2 separate regions of the Homo sapiens genome follow, and region 1 is linked to region 2. Evidence: fine-mapped expression QTL. A gene starts in region 2. The other region holds a variant in brackets. All regions are shown on one strand. Distances are between the middles of the regions.

The links. PIP is the estimated chance that this variant, and not a neighbour inherited with it, causes the effect.
Region 1: its variant is fine-mapped to the expression of ANXA13 in liver (GTEx, PIP above 0.99).

What each region holds. Positions count from the first base shown.
Region 1 is chr8:124,428,752-124,431,672 of GRCh38, forward strand. No RefSeq gene overlaps it. Among named protein-coding and RNA genes, the nearest start is that of TYW2, 21 kb to the right of the region's middle. RefSeq lists enhancers at 1-470, 2,469-2,921. The variant A/C (reference allele first, on the strand shown) is at 1,139.
Region 2 is chr8:123,735,847-123,738,767 of GRCh38, forward strand. It overlaps ANXA13 (annexin A13), which reads right to left and starts at 1,547. Exons shown (of 11, transcript NM_004306.4): 1 at 1,474-1,547. The coding sequence starts at 1,488. The region is part of intron 1 of LOC105375739 (a long non-coding RNA gene); the gene reads left to right.

The DNA.
Region 1 (2,921 bases), 690 kb after region 2:
ATGTTGGCCAGGCTGGTCTCAAACTCCTGACCTCAAATGACACACCTGCCCCGGCCTCCCAAAGTCCTGAAATTACAGGTGTGAGCCACCGCACCCGGCCAGTCACTTAGTCTCTTAAGTCACTTAGTCTGCCTTTAACATGAGAAGCAGAGACATAAAGGCTTTACATTAGAACTTCTGACTCACAGCCAGGCTCAGTAGTTACTGCCAGTAATTTGAGAACTTTGGGAGGCTGAAGCTAGAAGGTTCCTTGAGGCCAGGAGTTCAAGAGCAGCCTCGGCAACATAGCAAGATCTCATCTCTACAAAAACTTTTAAAAAGCAATCTTAGCTACTTGGGAGACAGAGGCAAGAGGATCACTTGAGGAAAGGAAAGAAAAACTTCTGAGTCAAGAAAGAGAGAGAGAAGAAAGAGAGAGAGAAAGAAAGAAAAGAAAAGAAGGAAGGAGGGAGGGAGGGAAGGAAGGAAGGAAAGAGAAAGAAAGAAAGAGAAGGAAGGAAAGAAAGAAAGAAAAAGAAAGAAGGAGGGAAGAAGGAGGAGGAGGAGAAGGAAGGAAGAGAAAGAAAGAAAAGAAAGAAAGAGAAAGAAAGAGAGAAAGAAAAAAAGAAGGAAGACTGACTTTTGAGTCACCGAATGCTAATAGAGTTCTTCTGTGGGCATCCATGCTGTCATATTCCACCTTGCCACCCTTTCCCCTATTTCCTCCAAGTGCAGCAGAAGATGCCGCAGCCTCTCAACCAACCAACCATGCTAGTGTGTGGTGGATTTATTTGTAGGGAGCTGATGGTTCTGGTCTTTTCTCTCAAGACTCATTTCCCTGAAATGGGCTATAGACTGGAACTGCTTTGCTGCCCCAGTGTTGCCAACGCCCCTTGTCTGGAATGTATTCCTCCGGTGTAGCCTCAAGGGCATTGTTAGGAAGTATGATAAGATAAATCTCTGTTGCTGTCAGGTTGTGTCCTTAGATGCATTCTGAATACCCTCTCTCATGGGCTGAGTCTCTCAACCCCACCATACACAAAATGGAGCAAAGATTTTTATCCAGGACTGGATCCAGGACAGTGGGAGATTAGCAGGACCAAACAACATTTATTTCATCATTCATTTCATTGTGTCTTCCTTTTTTCATGTATTCACT[A/C]GATCAGCAAGTATTTATTGAATGTTTGCTATGTACTGGTCACTGGGCTAAGCTCTGGAAGAGACAATGATGAATAAGGCTAAATAAGACAGTGATGAATAAGGCCATTCCATTTTCTTCCTTGACTTGCTGGAAGAAAATGGAAATATATAATATATAAGTAATGAGCAAATAAAGAAGAGAGCAGGTTATAAGAATGCACTAAGGAAATAAGGAGGATGCTGAGAAAAAGCAGCTTGGAAAAGGGCACTTTAGGTGGTCAGGTAAGGCTGCTCTGAAGGAGGAGGTGACATTTGACTGAGATTCATGAATTAAAAGGGATCCCTGTGAAGATCTGAAGGAGAGCATCCCCAAGAGCGGAAGCAGGGATAAATGCTGTCGGACAGCAGAGGACCTGGATCATGTTAAGAACAAACTGCAGACCAATGTGGCTACAGGAGAGTGAGCAAAGGTGAGATTGATGTGAGATGAGTTTATAAGGCTGGGCAGGGGCCAGATTGTGCTGGACTTAGGTGGGGGCATGTGGACAATGGCCTAAGTACAGTGGGAAGACAGTGGAGGGCTTTAAGTGTATGGAAAATGAATTCCAGGTACAAATGAGGATTGCAGTTTCTGGTTAGAGGGTTTTAAGTGCATGGAAAATGAATTCCGGATACAAATGAGGATTGCAGTTTCTGGTTAGAAATCTGGGCAGGAGATAATGGTGACTGTACTAGGATGAAGGAATAGGTGTGGAGAGTTGTGGACACATTCAAGATATGTTTTAGATTAGCGTTAACAGACCTTGTTGGCAGAATGGTTGTAGAGAATTAGGAAAGGAAAGATGCAAGGATGACTCTTACAACTTTTTGAGAAGCTGGACAACCAAGGGGTCAAAGAAGAAATAGAAGAGAAATTATAAAGTATTTTGAGACAAAAATGAAAACAGAACATACCAAAACTGACAGGATGCAGCAAAAGCACTACTAAAAGAGAAATTCAGAGTGATAAACACCTACATTAAGAAAGAAGAAAGATCTCAAATAAGCAACCTAACTTTACATTTCAAGGAACTAGAAAAAGAAAAACAAATCTAAGCCCAAAGTTAGGAGAAGGAAAGAAATAATAAAAATTAGAGCAGAAATAAACGGAATAGAAAATGAAAAGCAATAGAAAAAAATCAACAAAACTAAGAGTTGGTTTTTTGAAAAGATAAACAAAATCGACAAACCCTTACCAAGACTAACTAAAAAAGAGAACACTCAAATAAACAAAATCACAAATGAAAGTAGAAACTTTACAACTGGTCCTACAGAAATAAAAAGCATAATAAGAGACTACTACGAACAGTTGTGTGTCTATGAACCAGATAACCTGGAAGAAATGGGTAAGTTCCCAGAAACATACAACCAAGACTAAATCACAAAGAAATAAAAGATTTTTTTTTCTTTCTTTTTTTTTTAATTGATCATTCCTGGGTGTTTCTCGCAGAGGGGGATTTGGCAGGGTCATAGGACAATAGTGGAGGGAAGGTCAGCAGATAAACAAGTGAACAAAGGTCTCTGGTTTTCCTAGGCAGAGGACCCTGCGGCCTTCCGCAGTGTTTGTGGCCCTGGGTACTTGAGATTAGGGAGTGGTGATGACTCTTAACGACCATGCTGCCTTCAAGCATCTGTTTAACAAAGCACATCTTGCACCGCCCTTAATCCATTTAACCCTGAATGGACACAGCACATGTTTCAGAGAGCACAGGGTTGGGGGTAAGGTCACAGATCAACAGGATCCCAAGGCAGAAGAATTTTTC
Region 2 (2,921 bases):
GACTGCCTTCTGAGAGGGTGTACGACTGGCTCTGAGGATTAAAAAAAAATACATAAAAATGCTGGTCCACTCCTAAAGGCCAGCTGCTCCCTAGGTTGACTTTCAAAAGACAAAATTATCCTCCTAAGCTGTGAATGCAGGGTCCATTGATTATTCCTGGGGTCCTCTGCATCTATCAGAAATATTTGAAAAATAGGCTTCAGTTTCTCTGAAAGATACACTGAACGGATGGCTCATAATCTCTGCTGGTATGAAAATGCTATTTGTAGATGATTTGAAAAACAATGCCTTTCCTAAGAATATATTTGTAAGTTTGTAAACATCTGAGTGCAGCTTGAATATATAGCGAAGGAAAAACCTTATAGACAAAGTAACAGTTTACAGAAAGTTTTGGAGTTTTATTCTCTGCTCATAGTGTGCATGAAATATATCATTCTTGCTGTGGAAATTTACAGCAGGTACACAAAACCTTATTAAGATTTGTATTGGAATAGCTTTAGATATACTTCAATGTAAAAAATATTCAAGATTCAACTCTGATCTGTCCTGTGTGTAGTTGGTTCCAAAAGGTAGTGTTTTAGTCAGTTTTTAGTCATTAACTATTTATAGACACACTATTCAGGAGCCTAAACATTTCAAAAGAAATGTAAATTATTAAGTCCATTCCATGGATATTTGCAAATATGTGGATGTTTAGAAATAATAATGGAATATTTTCACCTTGCAATCCAAGTTGTGTGGACTTACATGAGTATTTACCTTGGTCTATTAATATTTGCAACATGAACCTATCTTTCCCACATAACTCTGAATGGGCTTAGTTTATGAAGTTTTATACAAATTTGCTACAAACTAACAGCTTTAGTTATACATTCTACAGATACATATTAACCATTTGCTCTCTGCAAGGCACTATTTACTGCCTTATTTTACATACTTCTTTCTCTTTAGCCCCTCTTAAGAGATTTTTGGCCAATAAGGGAATAATATATCCCCAGTGCTTTTTTTTTTTTTTTTTTGGGACGGAGTTTCACTCTTGTAGTCCAGGCTGGAGTGCAGTGGTGCAATCTCGGCTTATTGCAACCTCCGCCTCCCAGGTTCAAATGATTCTCCTGCCTCAGCCTCCTGAGTAGCTGGGACTACAGGCATGTTCCACCACACCTAGCTAACTTTTTTTTTTTTTTTAATTTTTTTAGTAGAGACAGTGTTTCACCATGTTGGCCAGGCTGACCTCAAACTCCTGACCTCAAGTAATCCGCCCACTCTGGCCTTGCAAAGTGCTGGGAGTACAGGTGTGAGCCACCGCACCCGGCCTCAATGCATTTTAAAAGCATGGTATGCTGTTGCTAAAACCAATATTAAAGGGTAACCATAGTGATAAAGTATACAAGTATCAGTCATGATTTTATAGTTTAAATTCTTCCACATGCTAACCAAAATTAAAACCAATTCCCAAAGGCAATGAGTACTTACATGACGATTGCCCATTTTCCTTTTTCTGAGATGGTTTTTCTGTATTTCATCAAGAGATCAGTCCTCCTACAGGCAAAGTTTACAACAGTTTTCCCCCCGGACATAATATCTCTTGTGTTTAATAAGTAACTTTTGGCACTGAATTTGAATACATTGTTGGGGATGGGTAGGGAGTGGCTCTAGCTACAGATAAACTTAGACTGCCCAGGTTTCCTTGGTACCCATGTTTTTAAAATAATATACTTCTTAATAAATAAAGTTTAGGCTTTTAAAGTTGAATAGCTTCTTCCCACCTAAAAGACTAAACCTGCCTCACTTCTGAATTGTTGAGTTATTCTTTCATATTCTGGTGTTCATTTAAAATATTATGCCTTTTAGTAATGAAAGCATTAACCAAATAGAAAAATATTACTATTTTTTACTAACATTGTTATTATTATTACAGAGAATTTTTCGAAGGCTACATTGCATTACACTAGATCATTTAAAAAATTTTACTGAGTTTTGAATTTAAAAAGTAATATGTGCAGATGGTAAATTTGTTTCTAATAATACATAAAGGTCCTGTGAAAAGTCGGCCTACTGACTTCCTTTTTCCTTCCCCCAGAGGTTTTCCGTGAGTCCTTCCTGAAGTGGTCCATGCATATTCAGCTATGTCCGTCGGTCTGCCTGTCTAGTTACCTACCTCTCTGTTTATCTTGATCCAACTTGTCTTTTCTTCCTCACCAAATGGGTTTGTACAATGTATTCTGTTCCATGCCTTGCATATTTCTTGTCTTTCCTTTTTTTTTCTGAGATTATTACAACATGTTTCTTTTTTTATTTGTACAAACTTATGTGGTACATAAGACATTTTGTTACATGCATATAATGAGTAGTGATCAAGTCAGGGTATTGAGAGTGTTTGCCTGAGTACAATAGATTTCTGTTGAGTACAGCCACCGTACTCTACTATCCAACACTGAATTTATTCCTTCCATCTTAGTGTGTGTTTGTACCCTTTAACCCACTTCTCCTCTTCCCCCGCAACTCACCCTTTCCAGTCTCTTTTCTCCATCTATCCACTCTCTACCTTCATGTGATCAATTTTTTAGCTCCCACATTTAAGGGAGAACATGTGATATTTGTTATAAGGGAGAACATGTGATATTTGTCTTTTTGTGCCTTGCTTATTTCACTTAATATAGTGTATATTTCATATACTAAAGAGATATTTGACACTGGCACATTTCTTTTTCAGTGGCCATGTAGTCAACTGTTATGGATATGAACCAAACCTTATTTCATCAGTCTACCGTTGAAGGTCATTTAGATTGTTTTTGATCTTTTGCATGAATATCTCATACACATCTTTGTTGTGCTTTCTTATCTGTAGAATAAAATCTTAGAATAGAGTTGCTGGCTAAAGACTATGTGCACTGAAAATTCTGATAGCTGTTGCCAAGTTG